5 separate regions of the Homo sapiens genome follow, and all the other regions are linked to region 4. The links come from fine-mapping of genetic effects on gene expression. A gene starts in region 4. Each other region holds a variant in brackets. All regions are shown on one strand. Distances are from middle to middle. Region 1 has its middle 20 kb from the start of KCNIP1. Region 2 has its middle 4.8 kb from the start of LINC01366. Region 3 holds the start of LCP2 (lymphocyte cytosolic protein 2). Region 4 holds the start of KCNMB1 (potassium calcium-activated channel subfamily M regulatory beta subunit 1). Region 5 has its middle 29 kb from the start of LINC01366.

Evidence for each region.
Region 1: its variant is fine-mapped to the expression of KCNMB1 in spinal cord (GTEx, PIP above 0.99).
Region 2: its variant is fine-mapped to the expression of KCNMB1 in whole blood (INTERVAL, PIP above 0.99).
Region 3: its variant is fine-mapped to the expression of KCNMB1 in whole blood (TOPMed, PIP above 0.99).
Region 5: its variant is fine-mapped to the expression of KCNMB1 in whole blood (TOPMed, PIP above 0.99).

Annotation. Positions count from the first base shown.
Region 1 is chr5:170,481,670-170,486,771 of GRCh38, reverse strand. It overlaps a transcript of KCNIP1 not described here. Among named protein-coding and RNA genes, the nearest start is that of KCNIP1, 20 kb to the left of the region's middle. RefSeq lists a silencer at 320-486 and an enhancer at 1,302-1,802. The variant A/G (reference allele first, on the strand shown) is at 2,836.
Region 2 is chr5:170,324,046-170,329,147 of GRCh38, reverse strand. No RefSeq gene overlaps it. Among named protein-coding and RNA genes, the nearest start is that of LINC01366, 4.8 kb to the left of the region's middle. RefSeq lists an enhancer at 1,219-1,318. The variant C/T (reference allele first, on the strand shown) is at 3,167.
Region 3 is chr5:170,293,469-170,298,570 of GRCh38, reverse strand. LCP2 (lymphocyte cytosolic protein 2) reads left to right here and starts at 794. Exons shown (of 21, transcript NM_005565.5): 1 at 794-1,037. The coding sequence starts at 960. RefSeq lists an enhancer at 1,612-1,691. The variant G/A (reference allele first, on the strand shown) is at 2,346.
Region 4 is chr5:170,386,678-170,391,779 of GRCh38, reverse strand. KCNMB1 (potassium calcium-activated channel subfamily M regulatory beta subunit 1) reads left to right here and starts at 2,413. Exons shown (of 4, transcript NM_004137.4): 1 at 2,413-2,521. KCNIP1-OT1 (KCNIP1 overlapping transcript 1) reads right to left here and starts at 2,287. Exons shown (of 3, transcript NR_109899.1): 1 at 2,177-2,287. It also overlaps a transcript of KCNIP1 not described here. RefSeq lists enhancers at 1-118, 371-871, 872-1,372, 3,297-3,797, 3,798-4,298.
Region 5 is chr5:170,357,369-170,362,470 of GRCh38, reverse strand. It overlaps a transcript of KCNIP1 not described here. Among named protein-coding and RNA genes, the nearest start is that of LINC01366, 29 kb to the right of the region's middle. RefSeq lists an enhancer at 868-1,368. The variant G/A (reference allele first, on the strand shown) is at 2,258.

The DNA.
Region 1 (5,102 bases), 95 kb before region 4:
AACCTTGACTATCAAGCTGTGGCCCTCTCTTGCCTGCAGGATAGCAAATCTTAGTTGGGTTATTTTTGATTGCAAAAACCAGAAACTGACTCTGGCTGAAGAAGCTATGAGAAGGGTATGGGGCTCACACACCCAGAAAATGCTTAAGAACCAAATCCAGAAACTGGCAGGAGCCAGGGAAATCCCAGAAATCTTGGCAGCAGGAACTCATTACTTGGATTTCTTAAGGATAAATCAGTTGCCACCACTTTTTGTTCTTGATTCCTCTGGTCAAAATGCAGGATCTCAGGAAAGACAATGTGATTGGTCACATGTGAGTCCACGTGCCCAACCCTTGCACCGGAGTGCAAGGCAGAACCCCTTGTTTGAAATTTCTGCCAGTTGGGTGGTGTCTGCGGCTGCTGCTGGGAAAATGGGGAGTAGAGGCTTGCAGGTAGATCAGCTGGAATACATGGCACAGGTGACACTGGAATCCCTGACCTGCTAATGAATGAAAACAGGGCCTGATGTCCACTGAGTTGAGCAACAGGGCCTTTGTTACTGCAAGGACGTTGTCCCCACCTCCGGCTGTGTTAGGATCACAGAACACCTGTCACCAGGGAACAGAGCTTTTTCGCAGGTCCCTGATGTTTGTAGCTGTGTGACCTTAGTCAACACGCTCAGCCTCTCTGAAATGCAACATCTGGGGGAAAAAATGAAAGAAAAATGAAGCAAAAAGAAGAAGAAGAAGAAGGAGGAGGAGGAAGAGGAGAAAGGTAATGTCCTCATCTGTTTGGGACAGGCCATTTTACGCACCTTCTGGGCTTCTTAGGACGATAAAATGAGAAAACGCGTGGGGTGACGTCTGGCCCAGCGTCTGATGATTCAAATGCTCTGTCCCTCCAGTCTTGATGATGCTGAGTCTAGAGGAAGGGCAAAAGCAGCCTTTTCCAGTCTGTTTTCAATTAGTTTGAGCCCAGCTGGGGCTGGGGCTGGGGCTGGGGGTCCTTGGGCTGGGCTGGGTTGATCTTTCCTTGGGCTCCCTATTTTCTCCTCCTCCTTCCTGTGCCAGGCCCAGAGGCAGCCTGGAGGCCTTGGCCTTCCTCTGAGATCATGTCATCAGCAGCCCCTCTCCCTGGCCCCTTTGGGAAGGGAAGTGAAGCTCAGCCCTGAGAGGCGGAGGGTGGGCCTGGTGGAGACTCAGAGCTGCCCTAGCTCCCTTGATGATTCCTGGAGGCACTTCGCAGAATAGGGTTTATGAATCCTCATGACCCTGAAGGTGGGCCATGTGTCTGTGTGTGAGTCTAGGCATGCTGTTGACTCACAGGGCTCAGCTCTGGGCCACCAGCCACCCTCCCCGTCCACACCCTGGGCCCAGAGCTGGGCTCTGTGGGCTTGAGTTTGGGATGTGGAGAGGTGTGGTGAAGGAAGGAGCAAAGGTTTTATCCTTAAGAAATCCAGCTGAGGGAGGGAGGATGGGACTCCCTTCCAGGCCCAAGACCAGAGGCCCAGGCCAGGCCAGGGTTGTGTAGGGGGATGAAAGACCTAGATCTGGCTGGGTGCGGTGGCTTACACCTATAATCCTGGCACTTTGAGAGGCCGAGGCAGGCAGATCACCTGAGGTCGGGAGCTTGAGACTAGCCTGACCAACATGGAGAAATCCCGTCTCTACTAAAAATACAAAATTAGCCGGGCGTGGTGGCGCATGACTGTAATCGCAGCTACTCAGGAGGCTGAGGCAAGAGAATTGCTTGAAACTAGGAGGCAGAGATTGCAGTGAGTGGAGATTGCGCCACTGCACTCCAGCCTGGGCAACAAGAGTGAAACTCCATCTCAAAAAAAAAAAAAAAGAAAAAAGAAAAAACAAAAAAAAGAAAGACCCAGCTCTGAGCCCACTGGGTGTGGCTACAGAGAGGGAGGGTGGCAAATGGAAGAAGATGTGGAGAGGGCAGATAAGTGAGCCAGAGACACGGAAGGAAGAAGGGAGAAGCAGAACGCAGAGAGAGGGTGGAAAGGTGGAGGAGGGTTTGAGAGGCAAAGGGCGAAAAGGAGCCTGGCTAAGAGAGATTTGGGAAAGGAAGAGAGGGAGAGGGAAAGAGGGAGGAGAGAGAGAAGGGGAGGGGGAAACGGGTAGAGAGAAGGACATGTTGAGAGGAGAAGAGAAAGAGAATGGCAACAGAAAGAGAAGAGGAAGAAAAGACGAATGGGTAGACAGAAACAGAACAGAGCAATGGAATGAAAAAAGGAGAGACAAGGTGGGGAGCACACAGCCTTGGAGGGAGAGAGGATGCCAGAGGGAGGCCCGGCAGCCACCAGGCTCTTTCCAGCTTCCCCAACGTGCGATGGAGGGCGTGCTGGCTGGGAGTCACCTGCCAGCCTCCTGGAGGGCCTGCACCTGATCAGCTTGTTTTCGCCATCTGAAGCTCTAAATGGTCTATTATCACAGAGAGAGCTCTTCACGTGTTTCCTCCCACCGCCGCCCCCGAGGAACACGTGCTGTATTTGTGAGGTGACTCATCTGGCTGCCACAACCTCTGGGATCCCAGGCAGAATGCACGTTAGGAGTTCACCTTCAATTGGCCACAGGGCGGAGGAGACGAGGCCTCAGTGGGGAGAGGGTGTGGAAGGAGCAACTTGGATGTGCCAGTCTTCTATCCTGTGGGGGTCGGGCTGATGCAGATGGCCAGCGGGATGCTCTGTGGGGGGATGGCATGATGTGAGTGCCCCCTGCTCCCTGGTGCCTTTTTTAGGCTGCCAGTCTCACCGAGGGACCTGAGAACTTGTCTAAGAAATTCCTGTTTCTCTTGGCAGCAAAGTGATGAGGTGGAGAATGGACACTCTCTCTCCCTTCTGGCC[A/G]CAACTCAATTCCCCCAGGCTGTCTAAGTGCATCCTACTTCTCCTTTGTCACATTCATCAGTCATCACGTCACACTCATTGTGAAGTATTCTCATTATCATTGCGTCTTGCATGCCAGTAGACTGAAAGCTCCCTGACTGCAGAATGAACCAACGAATGAACCTATTTGCACCTATTTGGGAATCTACTTGCACCTATTTGGGAATCTACAGATGCTGCGTTTTTATCCCATGGAGGTATTTTTGACAACCATAAGGAAGGTGAAGTTCAGAGACAGGCAGCCACTAACTTGCAGGATACAGCTGTAAAGATGAGTGGGGGATTTAACCAACCCAAATGTGACTGATTGTAGAGTTGTCCCAACCATCTGGAACCTTGCGGCCCCACACAGATCACCATTGACATGCATTACCCAAGTTATGGAGTGATTGGTACTCTCTTCTTGCATGTTAACCCAATACAACCAGCCAGATATCCTTAAAGAAAAAGAAGCGAGAGGGGCTGTAGCAGACAGGAGATGTGGTCTTAAAATGGAGAGGATGGCTAGGTCCACTTTAAGGGGATTTAGAAGGTGACTGCAGATCTGTGCAATATCCCAGTGATGGTCACTAGAGAGTGCAGGAGTTGCATCTCCTCCTGGGGAGGGAATGTTGGCTTTCATCTTTTTAGTCCAAAGGTCCCCAGCCTGGGATCACCCTAGGGTGTTCCCACCACCCTGGGTTCCTCTTGCCTCATAGTTACCTATGATTTTCAGGCCTGGATGAGAGGCAGGGCGAGTGAGCTCCATGGAAATACCTGTCTCCACAGCCTGCAGGTGCACACACGTACTGCCCAAGCTATCCGGCTCTGCGGGCCCCAGTTCCACTTTTGACTCCATCTGTCCTTGGAAACAAAAGGGAAGAAAGGCTGTTTCTTCCACCTCATACTTTAATTTAAAATTTAGGCTATGTTTTCTAGGGATGCATGGAATCTAGTCATGACCTATTTGAAATACTGAAAGACCAGATAAAACCTCTCAGGACAGAAGGGGTGGGACAATAGCACCAAAATGCTTCTCCTGATAATTGTCCCAAACTCATACCTCTAAACATCACCAGCGCTGTTTCAGTGGAAGGCAGAATTGGTGGAAGAAGGCTGTGGAAGTTATTATAATTTTGGAGCTAATAAAAACCTCTCTCAGACAGGCTTGGCCTTGGACGTTACTTGACTCCCACAGCATACCAGATGAAATCTGGTCTCTGGGGACTTTTAAATCATCAATACCCAAGCCTCAGCAAAGACAAATTACATAAGAATGTCTGGGAGCTATGGCTTTTGGGGAGAGTGATTCCTCAAAACACTAACATCAGATATATCTAATTCCAGGCTCTGCCACCGCTCATCTGTGAGTCCTAGAGAAATCACTTCAGTTACTTGATCCGTGGTTTCCCCAAAAGTAAAATGAAGCAAATCATGGTGCAAATTTCATGGGGCTGTTGTAAGGGTTTTATGATATAATAGCTGCAAAAGGCCCCGTACTGTGCCTGGCACACATTAGGGATTCAAACATTGGCCATTGTAATTTTACTGTTATTATTCTTATTGATAAATATTGACTAATCGCTGGCTAAAATTATACCCTTCTTTGAACCCTGGGGAAAGTATATGAACTTGATGGTAGATGGGCACTGCTGGGGGAAGATTAATGGAGGTGTCCTGTGCTGCCTAAATAATAAATCTCTTCTCAAAGTGGACTCCAAGCAGAAGTGTCTTTCCTGTTATCAGCTGGTTGGAAAATATTAATATCACCCACATTCTCAATTGGCCTAAAACACCACCACTAGAGGAAATGCTAACATGGCTGGCTTGGTTTAAGACATAGACTGCAAAGCATCCCGTAACCACAGCCAACATTCTGTTAATCTTATCAGAGGGAAGCAGAATGCTTTAGCAGCTGATGGAGGGCAGGGATTTAAAGAATTCACTTTACTACCTACAGAAACAAAGAACAAGACTTGGAAACGGGGGCTCAGAAGCAAGAAGGGATGATTTCAGTTCTGATATGACCATACAGACCACTCAGGGAAAAACCCACCATGGATGAGTTCCTTCTTGTCACTATGAAATAAACTATAAAGAGCGATTGCTATAAAGCATGGGTGGGGTCATTCTCAATATTTCTTTCTGTCAAGGTAATAAATCCCAAATTCATAAGCCCCTTCAGATAAGGTTAGATGCAGGCCCCTCACTAAGGTGAACCTGACCTTACTTCTACACCCTTCAATTGA
Region 2 (5,102 bases), 63 kb after region 4:
TTCAGTGTTTAGCATTCAATTACCCTACTATTGGCACTTCATAATAGTACTCAAGAATAGGTCCTCAATAATTATTTGTTGAAGAAAGGAACAAAAGGAGAGCACAGGGAAAAGTAAAGCTGGCAAGATTGACCTGTGCTGGGTACTGCTGGGCTAAGGAATGTAGATGCTAGTCAGAGGAAAATGGACCATCACAGAAGGGTTGATGAGATGCATGTTTCTGATGGTCACCCTGCTAAGCACAGGAACTGTGTTGGGGAAAGTCCAGGAAGTGGCAGGAATAGACAGAGTGGACTATGGCTATGGTCCGAGTGTGGGATGTTGAGGACCTGAGCTAATCAGGATAGTGTACGTGAAAAGGTAAAGAGGGATTCTAGAGACTTGAGGAAGGTAGAACTAGAGTGCTATCCATGGTTCCATATGGATGAAGAAGGGAAGAGGGAGGGAATATAAAGAGAAGAATTTTCCATGCCCCTGCTGGAATGACTAGATGCTAGCCACTGGAATACAAAATGTATGGGGTGGGGTTCACCATGAAGCTAATGAAGGTTATGTGCGAGAATCCCTCCCTTTCACATCCACTATCAAGGTCCTAAACCTACTCTTGTATTCATTGTTTTCTTTTTATTTATTTTTTCCTAAAGAGCCCCTTCCTGGCCAATTATAGAATCCTCAGGCTCCACCAAGCCTGGATCTTCCCCTGGAAATACAAGGAGAACAGTTTGGGGGAAAGGATTCCATTTGGATTGTGAATTCCATTTGGGGCATGGTAGGTTAGAGGTGGATGAAAAACCTTGAGGTGGAGATGTTCTGCAAGGAGCACAGTGTGGGACAGGGCTTGAATCCTGGCTTCATGCTGTGTGGACATGGGCAAGTTGTTTGAGCTCTGTGCTCAGTAAAATGGGATGTTAATGATAGTACACCCTGATAGGGTTGTAAAGATTAGATGAGACAACATAGGTCAAATGCTTAGAACAGTGCCTAGCACATAGTGAGTGTTGAAAACAAGTTGCGTGTTGGCTTTTGGTATTCTGTGGGGCAGTGTATATCTGAGAGTCACTGGAGTTGAGGGTGGCCTTGGGGGGAGTTGGATTGTGTAGCAAGAGTGTATTAGGGCTTGATATGAGGAAGACCAAGGACAGAGCTCTGATATTTATCAGGGTGAGCAGAGGAAGAGGAACCAGCAAAGGAGGCTGACGAGGACTAGCCAAAGGGGTCCTGGAAGCCAGGGGAGGGGAGAATACCAAGCAGACACTCAGTCATGGGTGTCACCTGCTGCTAAAAGTCTAGCAAGAAGGTGACCACAAGAGGCTGCTGGCATGGGTTTTGGGGACATCTCAGTGACCTTGTCAGAGGGCTCTCGGTGGAGAGTTGGGTACTGAGGAATGAAAGTCCCATGCAGACGACAGGTGTAGATGGTCTTCTGCAGAACCTTGGCTTTGGGAAAAGACAGGAGGCAAGAGGCAGAGGAGAACAGAGGCAGAGAGAAGGTGTTAGGGTGGTTGATTTGTTTTGCTTTGGGAGGACATGATTCACTGTTTAAAGATGAGATTCACAGGCTTTGGGGGCTGTGATGAAGAGTTGGTGTGTAAAGTTTAACAATTTGAGGAAGAAATAAAATAATTGATTAAAAAAAAAGTGAATGCCTTGAAAGAATTAGGAAGGGGAGGAACAAGTGACACAATAAGTGGCCAACCCTGAACTGCTCTCTGAGTCTCGAAGGAAGGGGGCAAGGGTGGGAAGGTTATAAATAAGCTTCTAGGTAGGAGGACAGGAAATGGGGCAGTTATGCCTGATAGCCTCAGGTTTGTTGCTGTGAAGTAGGAGGATAGATCATCTGCAGAAACATAAATACACAGCTTCTCCCACACCGTGGGCACTTAGGACAAATTATGATTACGAAACTTAAAATCTCAAGGGAATATTAGGGTTAGAGGAACCCGAGTTGATGGTAAAGTTATTAATATCCCTACAAATTGTTTTACTTCGATTAATATAAAGCAGTGAACAAAGCATACCGAGTAAAAACAACCTCAGAGGCAATTTGCACATCTTTGTTAGTGCTCTACCGTTAATTTTAATTTGCAAACCTTTGTTTGCTTGTAGGTGCTTGAAGCATTTCAGGATCTTCCTACCCTGAAGTTTCAACTTACAAATAAATGCTAGCTAATAAATAAAGTTATGAATCATTTCAAACTTACAATGAAGTTGAAAGAATCTTACGATTAACACCAATATACACACAACCTTGGTTCAACCATTAATGTTTTACTAAGCTTGTTTATTTAAATAAACCTTTTAACTACAAAAAGGAAAATTACAAAAGTACAGAGTTCCCATATACTTCCTAGCCTGTTTCCCTTATTATTAAAATCTTATATTAGTATGATACATTTGTAATAACTAATTAACTAATATTGGTGTGTTATTAACTAAAATCCATACTTTAAGTGGTGCGATCTCAGCTCACTGCAACCTCCGCCTCCCAGGTTAAAGCAATTCTTCTGCCTCTGCCTCCTGAGTAGCTGGGATTACAGGCACATGCCACCAGGCCTGGCTAATTTTTTGTATTTTTAGTAGAGACAGGATTTCACCATGTTGGCCAGGGTGGTCTTCAACTCCTGACCTTGGAGGTGTACTTACAAGGTATTTCATAGAATGTCCCTCAGTTGGGATTTGTCTGATGATTTTCTGGCAATTACACTGTGGATGTGGATTTTTAGAAGAAAGACCGCAGAGGTAAAGTGCTTTTCTCATCTCATATCAAGGATACACACTGTCCACATGTCATCGCTCTTGTTGACCTTGATCACCTGGCTGAGGTAGTGCTGGTCAGGTTCTCCACTGTGAAGTTACACTTTTTCCTTCCTTTCCATGTGTACTTTTTGAAAGGAAGTTACTAGGTGCATCCCACAGTTCAAAAAACTTAATGAGGAATTACGCGTCACCTCCTTGAGGGTGTAAATTTGTATTTTTTTTAATCACGTATCTATCCATCAATTAGCTATTCCTTTACCCATCCATCAATTCATCTTACTTTTTTAGACGTTTAAAAATAAGTTTGCAGATTTATATTATTTTGTTGCAGGCAACACATATGCTAAGGCACTTTGTTTCTGCGCCTCATCTGGTCCTCAAACCAAATGTCAATTCTTTTTAGGTTGTA[C/T]ACAGTTTCTGGGTTCTGCCTCCTGGGCCTCCACTGGAGTCAGAATCACCCACAAAAAGTCCTAGATTGTGAAAAAGATACCAAACCTGGGGTATTTGTTCTATTATTTGGAAACTGGTAGACATTTCTCAAGGCCCCTTTCCAGTCCCCAAGGTTAGTGGTCTCAGCTTTGCCATGTTGACATCTTGTTCAACACTCTGGGTGGTGCCCCACACACTCGCTGCCTGAAGGCCATCCTCTCTCTCCTGTTCTTCCATGTCTTCCAGGGCTTTAATGCAATAATTAAAAAGTAATAAACCTCCATTCCTCCTTTTCTTCTGCTGACCTTCCATTTCCATTCTCGGTTCCTAGTTTCCTTTTTTGCTAATTATCCCCATCCAGAGGGACACTTCATTCACACCCTGAAACTGAAATTCTTCACTTCCCAATACATTGGAATATATTAGACTTTCTAGTACTTCATATAAAGTAAATTCAGGGTTGTAGATACAACATTGCTGCATTTTATACTATATATATATATATATATATATATATAAAATAGCTATAGTGTTATACATTTTGCAAATATGCCAAATTAGATATTTTGTGCCAGAGTGCAAATAGCTGCATGGGAATAGCCCAGTAAGTAAAATAACTGAAGGCTGTTAAACGTGATATGAGTCTGGTAAATTCTTGCCTAAGTGGAAACCACTTTAGAAACTTTTCTGTTTTCCAGTCAACAATGTATTTCTTTGTTGATGCTCATCACACTTAACTTTTTTCATGTATTTTGTCTTTCCTTATACCTTCCTCCTCCATCATATTGCCTTCTCCACAAGAATTGGTTGTGTGCTGGTTAGAACAACCCATAATGACTGGCTGGTTGGGTGGATGCCTTGATGGATGGATAAATGTAAGTTCCAGATGTTTTTAAAGAATCATCTAACCTCTTGCTTGTACCATGTAGTCATCTGTCCTCAATTCAGAGGTACTGGTAGTGATGGCTGACCACCATCACTGTAGTATTACTTCAGGACTTAAAAAATGTTGTTTACTAAACTAACATATAGTAACGTTGACTTTTTTGTGTGTACAGGTCTATGAATTTTAATGTCTAGATTTGTGTAACTACCACCACAATTGGGATACAGAACAGGTTCTGTCACCCCAAAAATCTCCCTTGTGCTAATCCTTGGCAGCTGTGCTCTCCCCAACCCCTAGCCCTTGGCGATCACTGTTCTGCTCTCCATCACTCTAGTTTTGTCTTTTTTAAGAATGTCTTATAAATGTACCCCTTTAAAACTGGCTCTGTTCACCCAGTATAATACCTTCGAGATTCACCCCAGGTGTTGAGTGTATCAATTGTTCACTCTTTTATTGCAGAGTAGCATTCCATGGTAAAGATGTGCTACCATTTATCCATTTACCAACAGAAAGACATTTGGATTATTTACAGTTTTTGGTGATTGTGAGTAGAACTGCTATAAACATTCACACACTGGTTTTTGTGTGGACATACGTTTTCATTTCTCAAGGATAGCTACCTAAAAATGAGAATGCTGGTTCACATGATAAGTGAATGCTTAACTTTATGAGAAACTACAAAGCTGTTTTCCAGAGTGGTGTACCATGTGCATTTTCACCAGCAATATGTAAGAGTTCCAGTTGCTTCCAATCCTCACTAGCACATGGTTTTGTCAGTATTTTTAATGTACTTAGGGTATGTAGCAGCATTTCATCATGGTTTTAATTTCCACTTCCCTAAAGGCTAATAATATCAAACATCTCTTCATATGCTTATGTGATGTCTGTAGGTTCTCTTTGATGAAGTGTTTGGTCAAGTCTTTTTATCCATTTTTAACTTGGGTCTTTGTTTTCTTACTGTGGCATTTTGAGCTTATTTATATATCCTGGTTATGAATCTGGGCCATTATCTTGAAAGACACAATCCCGA
Region 3 (5,102 bases), 93 kb after region 4:
TGGCTAGAATATATGGCAGAATCAATAGTGAATAAAATATATTGTGGAAACAATAGTGAATGGAATATATGACACTACCAATAGCAATTGTTAAGTTTTTTTTCTTTTTAATTTTTCTTTTTAGGTTTGTCTAGTTGAATGCATCTAAGTTTTATGTGCATATGAAGAATCACTGTTTTCCTATTATACAGATTTGGAAACTGAGATTCCCAGCTTTTAACTCCTTGCCTAAGGTTGCATAGCACAGAAATAGTCATATCAGAAACTGAGCCCTGTCTGCACAGTGTAGCACCTTGTTCAGCCCTGGGTGCCTGACTCACTCACTCCTTGAGGACCCTCTCATGACAACTGTAAAGAGGCAGCTGAAAGAATCCCAGTCTTTGATGGTGGGAGGGGAAAGTGGTTGGAAAGCATTAAAAAAACATGCTCCAGCAGTTCACTGATGTGGGAAATTGTCTGTATTTCAGGTCAACCGTCAGGATAGATTTTGGTCTGCAAAGCCCCAGCTGAGCAAGAATGCAGTGTAGACATATGGGTGCCCAGAGTTTAAAGGAAAATTACTCAGACTCACATTGGAGTTTAAGACCCCTTCATTGCCTCTCCTACTGGGTTGGGGTGACTGGAGCCAGTGGGGAATTACCAACCCTGTGGCTCTCTCTGCATCTCAAGCCTCCAGAGCTGGGCTTCCTTGTTTACTTATTTAGAGCCCAGCAGAGGAAGTGGTAAAGGAAACTAGCTGAGTCGTTTTCTGAGAAGAGACCATATTTGTTCGCAGAGGAAGCCGTTGCTTTCTGGGATCTGGCTACGCCAGAAAAGACATCGGCTCCAACAGGGGTGTTCCACAGGGTAGCTGGGAGTTGGAAGAGCCAAGAACGCCTCCGAGCTCTGGATTTGAGCTTCTCTGCCCATGGGTGAAGCGCCCATGCTCAGCTTGTGAGCTTCTTCCCGGGAGAGCAGCCATGGCACTGAGGAATGTGCCCTTTCGCTCAGAGGTCCTGGGCTGGGACCCCGACAGCCTTGCTGACTATTTCAAGAAGGTAAGCCTTGCTCTTGTGTGAATGGTCATGATGCTAGTGCCCTTGGTGGGCTGAGCTGAGGCTTGACGATGGAATTGGGGCAGAATGTGGGAGGTGTATAAGATAGCAATGGAACCCTATGGCAACTTTACTGGTTGAGTGAGCGCCATATAGACCGCTGAGTTTTCCTGACCATGAGTTCCGGAGAGAAGGATGGGAGCAGAAGCCCTCAAATGAGTATGTGCCTATTATGTGCTAGGGTTTGAATTCGGTGTCTCACAGGCACTGTCCCATTTAGCGCTCCCTACTATGTTGTGAGGTCAGCATTGTTATCCCCTTGACTCAGCTGCAAAATCAGCTCAGGGAAGTGAAATGGTCCGAAGCCCTAGGGACTACATGTGATAGAGGCAAGACTCAAGCCACACCTATCTGGTTTTAAAGTCCATGCTCTGAGATGCAGAGAACTGTTGTAACTGCTAATGAGATCAACGCTACTTACTAGAAAGGGGAGACGTGGTGTCCTGGAGGCAGGAGAAAGAATAGGCAGGGTGGGAGGGCTGGATAGAGGACTATGATGAGCAGTGCCAGACACAGCATTTGGGCTTTCACTGCTCACGACCCTAAGGGGGGTCCTCAAGCTCCCGCCTGGGGCAGTCTCCTTGGAGCCTTATGAGAGTCTTGTGAAGCAGGACAGAAAACTGATGTGAGCCCCAATTTATAGCTATGAAAACTGAGGCCCCTAGAGGAAAAGAGGCTTGTGGCGGTGCTGGGACCAGAGCGTTGCTGTCTTATCTTCTGGACTTAGAGGAAAGGTTGAAGGATCCCTGTGCTTGGTCATTGGCAGAAGGGGACAACGCATCTGCTTGGGCAGATCTCAAGCCACATGACTTAGTTATAGTCCCTCTACCCTGACCATGTGGTAAGATGACTTGTGCGAGACGGTTAAGCTTCTAACACCCTCATCCCTGCAGGCTGGCATCGGATTCTGTTGATATTCCAGACTGTCATAAAGATGAGATTGTAAAGCTAAGATGGTAGAAGTCATCTAATTCAGCTTCGTGTTTTTCCTGGGGAAATTGAGATTCAAGAGGGTAGACGAGGTTCCCTAGGACGTATAGCCAAACCTGGGGTCTATGCATTTCCGAGGCATTTATAGTCACAGCTGTTCTCCCCCAACCTGAAGAAGAAAATGAGAACATGTTGAACTAGGTGTGGTATGGTAGGGGTACAGTTCACAGATCCTGTTTTTTGCCATATTTTGTGCTTTCATTTCTGTTATTTTCCTTCTGCAAGGTCATAATAAACTTAGATTTCAGCAAATATTGTTGC[G/A]CAACTGGTTTTTTGAAGGATGTTTCTAAATATCTTGCTCAAATATAGACCAAATAAGATAGGGCAACAAGGTAAAATTTGCCAAGAGGGAATAAAGTGGCATGTTACCTTGATAAGGGAAAAAGAAAGGAATTGAGAATTATGAAGAGAAAGACTTGGGACGGGCTGAGAGGCACAGATAGGCCTAACATTCAGGTGTGACCAGGAGAATTATACAATCCAATTGAGCAACAGAGAATTGATCCCTAAAACTCCCATCAGTACAGGGAGATGGACCACGGGTCAGGGATGGTACAGGAAGACCTCACTGCCTGAGCTGGGGGAAGGGAGAGTTTTCTTCCTGGAGATCTCAGACCCCAGGACAAATCTACAGCACCCAGGCAGGTTCCTTCTTCTGCCATAAATGGACTGAGGGAAGAAACTAGGAGACTGAGGCAAATCTGTGATCCTGGAAGTTCTAGTCCCTCCACAGACTTGGATAGAAACCCTTCAGATTCTGAGTACCTCAGCCCCCTGAAAGAAACTACCAAACGAATGGACCGCAGAGTCATTTGGGAATGGATCTTAGCTGTCAAACATGACATGTAAAGAATTGATCTGCAGATGCAAACTCTACCCAAGTAGTGGGGTCAGGCCTCCCTTGGAGACAGCTCTCGACTCAGCTCTGAGGTCGGACACACTTTACCCTGGCTCTGCCACCTGCTAGCTTGGCGACTTTCCTGTAGTTGCTTTGCCTCTCTGTGCCTCAACTTCCTCATCAGTGAAATAGAGATATGAACAGTAACTAACCCAATGGGTTGGTTGTGAGGATTAAAGCAAATGATGTGTGCAAGGCACTCAGCAGACAAATGGATCCTAATGCGTGTTCCTTCTGCCCTTTTACCTTCTCTATTAACTGGCTCCTAGCTGGGGACACCCATGCAGACTGGTGGGACTTTGCGTCTTCTTGTCTCTGACATGGGTACCTCGTCCTGTGTCTGGAATATAAGCTCCTGAGGACAGAGACCATGTTACATATTTGTTCAATCTCTCCAATTCCTTTTGACTTGCAGGAGAACATCCTTGGGTCGTGCAGTGGAGAGGCACTGGCTCAGAGCTGTGTGTCCTAATCCCAGGTGGGGTCCCAGCTGGTATCCCAGCTCACTGTGTGACCTTAGACCAGCCTCTTTCCCTCTAGAGGCCTCAGTCTTCCTTACTACAAATCCAGGTAACTTTTCTGGACCAGTGCCTACCAATGCTGGATGCCATAGGAATCGTCTAGGGTGCTCCTTAAAAATACAGATTTGAGGTCCACAAGCCTAGATCTTGCTGGAGCAGAATCAAATGCCTGGGTCCCAGTCTGCAGGACTCTCTGCTGATCTAGACACAAAGTTAGCACTCTTCAAAATCATCTGGTTTATCTCATAATGATAACAGTGAGAATGATGAATTAAAGGCAGTTGACTCTTCCAAGAACCACTTACCCCCCACTGCCTGTAGATAAAGGGGATACCAGGGCTCCATAGATGGGATGTGCTTTCAATATCAACTTCTAAGTCAGCTTTCTGAGTGTGATAATCATCCCACCCTTCCAAGCTAAGATTTCATAACAATTGTATTTATTCTTTGGATTTGCTAGCTATAAGATAAAAATATGGCTTAAAATGTGCTCCAAAAGAAGGCTGCCACAAACCATGAGGCCCACCCTTGTGAGAAGAACCTAGGATCCTCAAGGAGAAACATTTAACCTCAAATGCTCCACCCCAAAGCAGCAAGTTGAGAGATACTTCAAATGTGAACATTTATGCTGTTGAGGACAAGTTGAAACTAGCACCTCATATGATTGCTGATTGGTCTAGGAAAATAACCAAGATCTTAAAAATGCTCGTTCCTATGGATCCTATATAACTCGGTTCTGAGGTTCTGACTTAAACAATTTATCTCAAAGAGGGAGAAAAAAGTTCGCAAAATAGTATCCATGATTGTCTCTATTTTGATTGGGATGAGGTACTGCAAACAAATGAAGCTGCATTTTCATTTGCTCATTTTACTTACTGTATATAAGTTATGCTGTAATTAAAAGGGGAATATTTCTGAAAGAGACATTAAAGCCTGTTCTGAAACTTGTCACCTAAAACCCATGGAACCTCATGCAAGTTACTTGCTGTCTGTGCCTCTCATTCCCCATCTGCAAAATGTGAGGGTTAAATGATTGAAGACTAGTTTAACTACTTGGTACACTGCCTGCCACACAGAAAGCTTTCGATAATTGTTCGCCGTTTTTATTATCATTATTGAAACAGCAGCTTGGTAAATAATCTAAATGTTCAGCAATAAGGGCATGATTAAATAATGTTGTGGTCATTAAAATTATTTTAAATTGAGTTTGCATAACACTAGGCAGTGTTTATATTATCCCTTTAGGTAATTTAAGAGAAAAAAGTCAGAATAATGAGATTGAATATAAATCATAACCTCAATTATGTTTAGAAACATGCTAGGAAGAAAGCATGGAAAGAAACACCGAGGTCGTCTCTGGGCATCGAGACAATGGATGGTATTTCTTTTCTTCTTTTAGCTCTCCTTCCTGAGGAGCATAGGGCAGAGCTCTGCATGCCTTGAAGGCAGTCTTTCTGTAAGGGTTGGCCCCGAAGCCTTAGAGCAAGGCAATTTCTCCATTTCAGGCAGTCCCAAGGGGGTAGTGAAAGCGAGGCTGAGGTGGGGACTGGGCCCTCTGTTAGCCAAGGGAGGGCAGTGGGGAGCCTGGCTAGCCACAAG
Region 4 (5,102 bases):
AGACAAACTGAAGCTTAGAGAGGCAAAGTAACTTGCTTGGGCAATTTATTTCACCTCTCTGAGGCTCAGTTACTCCCTCTATCAAATGGGTAGAAAAATCTCCACCTCAGTGGTCTATTGTGAGCCTATTGTGCTAGTACCTTAAGAAGCTGTTGGAAGAGTCAGAGAAGATATTTTGTGATCTCTGACACCCCGTACTAATGCAAACCGTCAATATTTATTGTTGCAGCATTGTTATTTTCTTGCCCTCCACCTGTAGCCATCTGTCACACACAACCCCGCAGCCAGCAAAGGACCTGGGTTTTCACCCACAAACCCTCGAGGACAGGGCTTGTCAATGCCTTTTGGTTGTGGCTCATTTAGGGGGAGCAGAAGACCCCACGGCCCCCCTTCCCTGTTTGTTCCCACCTTCCCTTGGGAAGAATGCTAAAGTTTGTTTATGATTTCCAAATAATATGTAGCCCTTAATAACTTATTCAGAGTATCACGAGCAAGGAGCCCTTCGGTTATACTCATAAATGGCAGCCTGTTGCACTGTGTATCTCTCCCCCAGGGAAGCAGGAGGGGGGCCTGGCATTTCTGGATTAGCCCCAGGAGGACTTTTCCTGCTTCTGAGTGGACAGAGGATCATCCTTGGAAAATTGCTCTTCTGAGATTGAATTCCAGATCCTACATCCCTCTGTCAATCTGCCTGCAAGGTCTGAAGCTGGTCTTAGACCCTCTGGTGCTATGGTGCCCATTAAACAGACACTGTAGTCTCCTGTTAATAAGATTCAATTAGGAAAGGGGTGGAGAAGGGCACTCACCGCCTGAGAGTGTGTCAGGGAGGCCTGAGTGGCTGCCTTCATTTCGCGCCTGCTGGAGGCAGGAGGGAGGAAGGTGGTGAGCTCGCTCAGCAGGGAAGGCCAGGCTGCACCCACCTCCCTGGGGGCTGGGGAAACTCAGGGTGACCTCCAGAGCCTCAGGTGGCAGCTTACTGTATGATCGAGGTGATTTTTAATGTCTCAGAGCAGCCCCAGGGTCATCAGAGACAGACCAAGCTGTGCCATCTGGAAGGGCCAGCTTCGAATCTAGTTCTGGCCCCTAGGGTTGCACCAGTGACTTCAAGCCTCCAAGTCTCAGTTTCAGGTTCTTTGATTCTTGGGTCAAGTGAAGGGTGGAGATAAGCTGCCTTCTACCACCACGCCTGATACTTAGGAAAGCCCCAATATCTGGGATTGTTTTTGTTGTTTTGTTGAAAATATATATATATATATATATATTTGTTTTTTTTTTTTGAGACGGGGTCTCGCTCTGTTCAGGCTAGAGTGCAGTGGCACAATCTTGACTCACTGCAACCTCCGCCTCCCAGGTTCAAGCGATTCTCCTGCCTCAGCCTCCCAAGTAGCTGGGACCACAGGCATGCACCACTATGCCCGACTAATTTTTGTATTTTTAGTAGAGATGGGGTTTCGCCATGTTGCCCAGGATGGTCTCAAACTCCTGGGCTTGAGCAATCCATCTACCTTGGCATCCCAAAGTGCTGGGATTATGGGCGTGGGCCACTGTGCCTGCCCTTTGTTGCTGATTTTTAATCCTTACTTCCACTTTACAGATGAAGAAGCAGAGATCTAAAAGCATGTTTTTTGCCTGCAAATGCTGACATTCACTTGTCTTATTGCTAGGAAGAAATCTCTGTACTTTCGCGGTCTCTGGGAGGGCCCCTGGTGAGCAGACTGTCCCTGGACCTGGTTGGAAGCAGTTGTGGAGCTCTCACTACTCCCAGCTTCAGCTCAGTTGGTCCTTAAAAAGTCAGTTCTCTCCCCTTGCCATAAATCCCCACCGTCTCTAACTCCCATCACTACCCTAAAGCAAAGTAGGTTTTAAAAATGCCAGTAACACAAGTGAGAAAACTGAGGTCATTTAACGATAAGTTTGGGAGTAAAACCAAAAACAAAAAAGGAAACTGAGGCCCAGAGAGGTGCCATAACTTGCTCAGGGTCACACAGCACGTAAGTGCCAAAGGCAGGGAGCTGTAGCTGCTCCAGCGTGGATATGCCAGGGACTAGTGACAAGCCCAACCCCTCCAGCCCAACTCCACCCTTCCTCATGCCAACAAAAGGAGAATCATTTCCTATTTCTGGCATCTTTGCCAGCCCACAGAGACAGAGAGAAGAAGAAATATTTCCAAATATACCAGGCTGATCTTTCGTAGTTTCTCAGTCTTGCTGTCTGTTGTTGTTTGAAATCTGTTTCCCACGAGACTCTGGGAAGATGGAGGTGCAGGGCTTGGGTAACAGCTGCCTTCCTCAGGGCTGGGTACCTGCTCTCCGAGTCTGTGTCTCCAGGCTGTGTGCTCAGACTTGACCATGTTTGGGCATGGAGGCTTGCCCCAGATGGGGACCAAAAGCTGCTTCCCTGGAGACGGGCGGGGAGGCCAAACTTCCTGCTGAAGCTCTGTGGCCTCTTTTGGGGTGGGGGCGGGGGTCCAGGCAGAAAGAAACTGTCTGCTGCTCAAGACCCACAGGACGCCGGGAAGACTGTGAGTACCGGGCCTGAAAGCACTTGGGAAGTGATTTCTCTGAAGACCGGGCTGGAGGGAGACAGGGGAAAGCAGCCTGCCACGGGGCAGGGAGGGAGGCAGGCAGGAGGACTCCCTTCCTCTCGGGGCTGTCCTTCTGGATGGAGGGCCCGTGGTCTGGTGGCCAGTGGGGAGGGTGGCACAGTGGCCAGGTTACTCTGGTAGTAAGCGCCCTGGCCCTCTAGGTCCCAGTTCTCAGAGTGGCCAGAAGGCTGCAGCCTGGAGATTAACACCAATGCTGGCACTTGTCACCGGTAGAGAGGTGGGACAAAAATAGATTCATCAAGAGGGGTCCAGACTTCTGCTCCAAACTTTCAGGGTTTCCTTCGTTAGTAGTAATAGCTAATATTTACTGGGGGCTGATTTGGGGCTAGGTGCTATGATACATGTCTGATACTCAATATGGCATTTGATCTTTAGCTGAACTCTCTGAGGCAGGTACCATGGTTCTCGTTTCACAGTCATGTGGTTGCTAAGTGTAAGTGGCAGAGCCAGGATTTGATTCCATGTCTGAGGACCTCAGAATCGCCCTGTCCACACCCCACCAAACTGTTCAACAATGTACTCTATTCCTTGTCCTTCTAAGGAAAAGGATGTCGACCCAGCTATCAGGTCACCCAGGACACTCCAAAGTCCTGCCTTCCTTTGTCCTTCTCCATCTTCTCTGAATCTATCCCAGATCTCAAGTGACCTTTCTAAATGGGAAGATATATCCTGGAACTTCAGAGATATTTAGAAATGCTCAAAACTGGGAAGTTCTTCTTACAGTCTAACTGAAATCCCTCCTATGATAGCTGAAACCCACTTCTTCCTTTTCTTTCTGTCCCTTGGGGGATATTGACAGTTCCCATCCTTCCTCCCGCCAAAGGTTCTCCCTTTGGATGCTGAATACTAACTTCTTGCTGAAGTCATATCTACACTGAACCCCACGCATGGTCTTAGGAGGATTTATCATGACTCTATAAACTCACTCAGTGCAGGCAACAATCTCATCAGACCATTAGAGACGGGTCAGACCTGAATAAGCCAAGTTTCCAGACTTCTCTGTGACAGGGAAGCCTCTCCTTTCCTTTCCTTCTGAGCTCCTAAAACTGGTAAAACCAGGTTCCTGCCTTCACCAGCCTCAGGAGTGCCCAGGGGCCTGAGAGGGCACTAGAAGCCAAATAGCAGAGGAGGCCATGGCCCTGGGCGCTGGGGGGGGCTGATTAGCCAGGAAGGAGCCACAGGAAGCCCCCACAGGTGCGATCCAGTTCCCCCAGGAGAGAAATGGCTTTGTTGTGGGCACTCAGCCCTAGGCTTCCAAGATGGGATTTCCCATTGGCTTCAAATGATTTATGTCTCACAGTATCTGGGGTGGGGCCAAGTGCCAGTGACCCTTGCAGGTCCTGGGGAAGCAGGCTGTTGGGGCTTTTAGCTTACCTCCAGGTGATTCTGTTGCTTTACCTGTGAATACATGGAGAGTCTTGTTCAACTGACGCCAGGTAGAAAAAGGCATGGGCTCTCCCATTCCCACAAGATCACAGAACAGGAGGAAAAGGATTGAATAAAAAGAGTTGAATAAAACATCTCTCTTTGTCGGGGGCAATTTCTGCTTGCTTGTGCTTTTATAATGTCTCCATTAGAATGCAGGAGAAACTCACCTCCTGGTGCCAAATAAAGGAGAAAAAGTTGTCATTGGATGTCACCTCTGCCGATCGATAGGGGAGGTGGACCAGCTCACTGGGAAGGTGTGATGGGTATCCGTGGTGCCTGACCCTGGTCTCTTCCCTTTAGCGGAGATGCCCGGGTATGAGGGCAGCCTGGCTAAGGGGAGGGAGTCAAGAATCTCTGAATATTTGAAACAGTCTAGTAGTTAAGAGACGCCTGAGCAGAAAATAGAGCACTTTGCAGAAAATCTCTTTGGACTAAGGCCTGTCACCCGGACACTGGCTAATTAAACAAACAAAAACCATAATATGTTTATTACTTTAGGGACCTGGCAAGGAGAATAAAGTCCCCCTGATATCTGGCTAAAATTTCCCCTAAATTCCCCTAAAATTTCCCCTAAAATGGAGGATTACATTGATAGCTTCCTGGTATTTTTGGTAGAAATGGACTCTGGTTACTTTAAACAAATAAAAACAACAGCAAATAAATTTACCAGAGGCTCTAGGACAGCTTGCGGAACCATGGGAAATCACGCGGGGACCATGGCTGGGCATCTCTGTGGCTCCAGGCGGCATAGATTGAGGGGCTGTTTCTTGAAGTCTTTGTCAAGACTCACACTCCTGGGGGAGCGATCAGGAGCCTAGCAGGGGAGGGTGGAATCTTTGCTTGCATTGGGGTGGAGTCAATGTCCAGGGGAAAAACAAGGAGTTGCTGCCTAAAGAAAGAGGAGAGAAGGAAAGCAACCACCAGCAGAATGTGCCCATTCTGCTTTGTCCCAGGTGGCTTCAAGCCCTGAAATAAGAAAGCAGTCGCTGAGGCCACCATGATGCCTTCTTTCTTCTTTCTTTGCTTGAAGTAGGGGAATGTTCCTTACAAAAAAAAAAAACACCGGAAT
Region 5 (5,102 bases), 29 kb after region 4:
TCTCCTCAATTGCACTTCCTCAGTCAGAATGGAGGTCCTGAAGTCTTGATTTCGAAAACAAGAGTGTGTGTTGCCTCTTGGCCAAACTGGGAAGGAATCTGTTTTGTCTTCGTTGCTTCTTACCCTGGATCTGATTTTCAGAAATGGAAAGAGTGTACTGGGGATGGGCTGGGGAGGGAAGTAAAACCCAGGGCTTGGGGCCAGACCGCCTAGGCTTCCAGTTGTGGCTATGCTTCATGCTGGCTGTGTGACTCCAAGCAGGCCGGTCCCCCGTCTGAAGCTCGCTCTTTATATCTGTAAGTGGGGTTAATTAGAGCACTCCACCTCCTAGGTTTCTCATGTGCACTAAATAAAATATTGGGCATGGAGTGCTCAGGCAATGCTGGGCACATGGCAGGTGCCACCAGCAGTGCTGCAATTTTGTTTAATCTTTAAATTCCAAAGCTGAAAGAGGCCTTTGAAATCAGCAGCTCCTTCATTTTAGAGATGAAGAGACTGAAGCCCAGAAAAAAAAGCCATTTACTTAGTGCAATGGGCTGAATATTTGTGCCTCCCGTCCCCCAAATTCACATGTTGAAATCCCACTCCTGAGGTGATGGTATTTGAAGGTGGGGCCTTTGGGAGGTGATGAGGTCATGAAGGCGGAGCCTCTTGAATGGGGTGTGTCTATAAGAAGAGGCCAGAGAGCTAGCTTACTCTCTTTCCTCCACGTCAGAATACAGCAGGAGATGCTGTCTGTAAGCCAGGAAGAGTCCCCACGAGAAGTCCACAGTGCTAGCATCCTGATCTCAGACTTCCAGCTTCCAGAACTGTGAGAAATACATTTCTGTTGTTGATAAGCCACCGTGTCTTTGTATGGTAGCTTAGGCCATCAGGTTGATAAGCAGCCTGATGGCCTAAGACAGCAAGCAGTTGTGAGGATTTGGACTCAAACCCAGGTCTGGCTCCAAAGCGGGTGTTCTTCTAAGAACACAAAATGGAATCTCAGTGGCTTCAGCCAGAGGGGACCAAGGTTAGCTTTGTGTTCATGGTCCTCCTCCCCTCATCCTAACAGAGAAGGAAGGCTTTCTTCTGCCCCTAGACTGAAGACCTGTGACAGAGAGCGTGGTCAGTGGTGATAGTAAATGACTTCCCATGAGTCTTTTTCAGGAGTCCTGGCCTTTCTTTCCTCCAGCTGGCCCGGGAGGCCTATGCAATTTCCTCATTTCCACATCCTCTCCCCCAAAGCTCCTCTCCCCTGCTGCCTGCCTTTCAGTGGGGTCCCTCCTCCTGCACTTCTGGGTGGGGTGCAGGTGGACAACGGGGAAGAACCGCCGCCTCACCTGAGCACCTGGCCAGCTGTGATGCATAGGCAGTGTGGGCCTGCACCCAGGGGCAGTCCCCCAGCAGAGCATGAGAGCGGAATGGGGGCAGGAACAGGCCTTTGGTCTTGTTTGCACTGACCCTTGTCTCATCCAGGTCGTTCTGGCTGGTCACTGCTGTCAAACTCCAGCACAGGAATTCAGACAAGGGAGATAGGGAGTGGTAGGCTCCAGAGCAAGCCTGACTAAGACCAGACCTCAAAAAGGGAACTCCAGCCACATGGCCTGATGTTGCTCGGCAGGGAAAGCATTTAGTCGTTATTTATTCAACCTTCCTTCCTCGGCTGCAGGTGCTTGAGGCACTCACTCTAGGTGATTCCCACGTGGTGAACGTGGTGAACGCTTTCACAGGGCTCCCATTCTCATGAGAATGGATGACCAATTCTCCCATGAACAACTAAATAAAAAGGATCATTTCCATTGTTGGCACATTTTTAATTATAGAACTTGTCATCAAGAGTGACTGGGGGCAGGGGGGATAATTTTGAAATAGCAGCACATCTGGATAGGAGCTGGGAAGAGGACTTGACCCACAGAGGCTCAGCCTTGTTTCTCTTGGCTACAAATCCAAGGTCGTATCATAGAAAAGAAGGGTGGGGAACTTGACTTTTACTGAGCAGCTTGTATGAGCCAGGTCCTGTGCCTGTCACATGTCCCATCTCATTCCATCTCCAGTAGCCACATGAGATGGAAATTACTGGCCCATTTACGGAAGGACACAGACTCAAGATGGGGAATGGCTTGCCCAAGGCTGTCCTGTTGGTGCATGGCAGGGTTGGAGCCCAGGTCCCTCTGGGTCCAGAGTTTTCCCGCCCTGCATCCTGCTTCCTTCCACAGTGACTTCACATCGCCACTTCCACCCTTGGGAAGCAAAGGCTTTCAGGGATTTGGGACCT[G/A]GGTCTGCTGAGAGAGATGGCCCAGGGGAGATTCTGTAACCCTAAGAAGACTGGGGAAGATGAGGGTCCCTGTGGCATGGCAAAGGAGGCCCTGGACTTAGAAGGCTGATGAAGACCTGACTAGATCCACTTCTCCCAGGGCTGTGGTGTGGCAGCCTGAACTCTCCTGCCTGCCAGAGGGCCCCGTTTCCAGCTACTTTTAATTTGGAGCAAACTAGCCGCTCCCCTGTGGTCCTGAAGTTAATAGGATGTCTGTGCAGCAGTGCCAGGATAAATGGCCCTGAACAAATTACTCCTGCATGGTAACAGGGTTATCTAGGAGAAAGACCCGGAGGCTCCAGAGGGGCAGGTGATCCCTCCTTCTTCTCTGCCTTCTACTGTGGGACTATGGAGACCCTAGTGAGCTGAGCACCTGAACAACCCAAATGGGTCAGGGAATGCTGGGCCTGCTGCAGAGGGGCAAGGGTGGTGAGGCCAGTAGGCTGGGATGAAGGCTACTGGACATCAGGAGGGCCAAGGTGAACACATGCCCCTCCTGGCAGGCTCTAGCTTGGGGCTGGAGAGGTAGGCAGGGACCCAGAAGCCCTGGATAATCAAACTTTCTTCCTGTGACAAAGCACTGGCACTCAGAGGTTCCAGGGTTGCAGAGAGTGAGTGGGGCTGTTGTAACATGACCAGAGTGCTTGCTCAGCCCCTCACTGCCAGGACAGTGAGCGAGCCAGGACTCGGATGGTGGGGACTCTCTTTCCCCAGCAAGGGGCAGCATTGAAGCTTAGCTTTTCATGGGACAGGTGGCATTCTCCTCTTGGTAGAGGGATGATGATATCTCACAGGTCTCAAAGTCCCCAGTGTGAAGGCTTCTGCTTTCCCAGACAATTCCAGTAAACAGCTGCAACACCTCAATTCCAGCCTGCCTAGTGTCCAAAACTTTGTGTGTATTTTCCCACACCCAAGAACACTTCTCACACTTGGCCTGTAAGAAGGGAGAGCCATGGGGGAGTGGCCCTCATGGGACAGAGCCTACTCAGTGTCTGGCAGGTGCTTTGGGCCTGCACACCTGCCTGAGAGGTGATAGGGATACTGAGAGAGCATGGGTATGGCTGTCCTGCTGATCTTGGCCTCTGGAGTGTTCCCTTTCCCCATAACCCAGGTGATGACACTTTATGGAATTTGTCACAACCCTTTGCATGACAGGTGGCTGCTCTGATCAGACCCAGCAGGGAAAAACCCACCAACAGAATTAGTGGGACGCTGGGGGACTCTCTGCTGGTGGCAAGGTGGGGAGTAGTGCAGGCAGGCGTGACTTCTCCAGCCCTAGGAGTGCAGAGGAATGTACCTTGTCTTGGCTGCAGCAAGACCTGGGTTCTAATCCCAGCTCTGCCACTCACCAGGGGAGCCACGACACTTAGCTAAACCCCAGTTTCCTTACCTGCTGAAATGGTGATTGCAATCCCTACCTCCAGGATCAAGACTAGAAAGAGGCAAGGAAGGTGCCTAGGGCACAAAATGTAAGCGGGGGCGGGTGCCCTGCAAGAGCAGAGTTGGGATTTGCCTGTGAGCTGATATCTCTTACTCATATCATCATTACATTAAAAAACAGCCTTGTGCCATTGATATTATTATTATCTCCAATTAAAAGTGGGGAGCCTTGGCTTGGGGTGGTGTTCAAATGACACAACTTCACACAGCTGGTAAGAGGCAGAGTTGGTACTCCAGCCTGGCCTGCTTGAAGGCAGAGTCCATGCCCGGGTCCAAGGTCAGTCTCTTGAGGATCTTGAACAGCAGTGGGAGGAGGCAAGAGGAACAGTGTGTCACTGATGGGGCAGCTGAGGTTTTGCCTCGAAAAAAGAGGAACAGCCTGGGCCTGGGCGGGAGGGGAGAGTTACGGCTCCAGGGCCTTGTCCTTGAGATAGATCTCATCTTCCCACACCCCTTTTCCCCACCCCCGCAGCCTCATGGGTGGCCTGGAGGACACTAGAAGCTCTCCTGGATTGGATTCCTCCCTTCTGCTCACTTTGGCTCTGTCATCTGTGCCTGGGGTAACATTTGTTCCCAGTGCAGAAGGAGATGAGTTTAAACCTCCCCAGCCAGAATGGAGCCTGCACAACTTCTGGTTCCTGCCAGCGGCCCCCAGGAAGTCTGTGAGGCGGGTGGAGGGGAGCTGACTGTGCAGAAAGAGGAAGACGCAGGTTCCCCAGACCCCTGATTTCACCAAGCATCCGAGCCAGGAGCTGGGCTTCTCCTAGGTTAAACAGCAGGCGAGGACCTGGCTCTGGGAGTCAGGCTTTTAACTCCTAATAAGGAATCAGGTGAGGGAGATGGCTCTGGGTAGGCCCTTAAGAAAACAAGTTGAGCAGAGGGGAAGCAGTGGTCTAAAGTCATCCAGTGGCTGGACGTGGTGGCTCATGCCTGTAATCCCAGCACTTTGGGAGCCCAAGGCAGGAGGGTCTCTTGAGCCAGGAGTTTGACATCAACCTGGGCAACATAGTGAGACCCTGTCTCTATAAACAGTCAAAATTAGCTGGTTGTGGTGGTGCACATGTGTGGTCTCAGCTATTTAGGAGGCTGAGGTGGGAGGATTGCTTGAGCCCAGAAAGTCGAGGCTGCAGTGAGCCGTGATTGCATCACTGCACTCAGCCTGGGGAACAGAATGAGACCCTGCCTCAAAATAAATAAATAAATAAAGTCATGCAGTAACTGACAAGGCCATAGGCTTTCATAAAGTGATCATGAGATGTTGCTCTTAGAATCTGTGCCTGGTGCTGAGAAAACAAGTAATGAGTGAGAGGGAGTCCCAGCCCGGAGGGGCTCTCAACCATGAGAGTATCCGCTAATAACAGAAGTC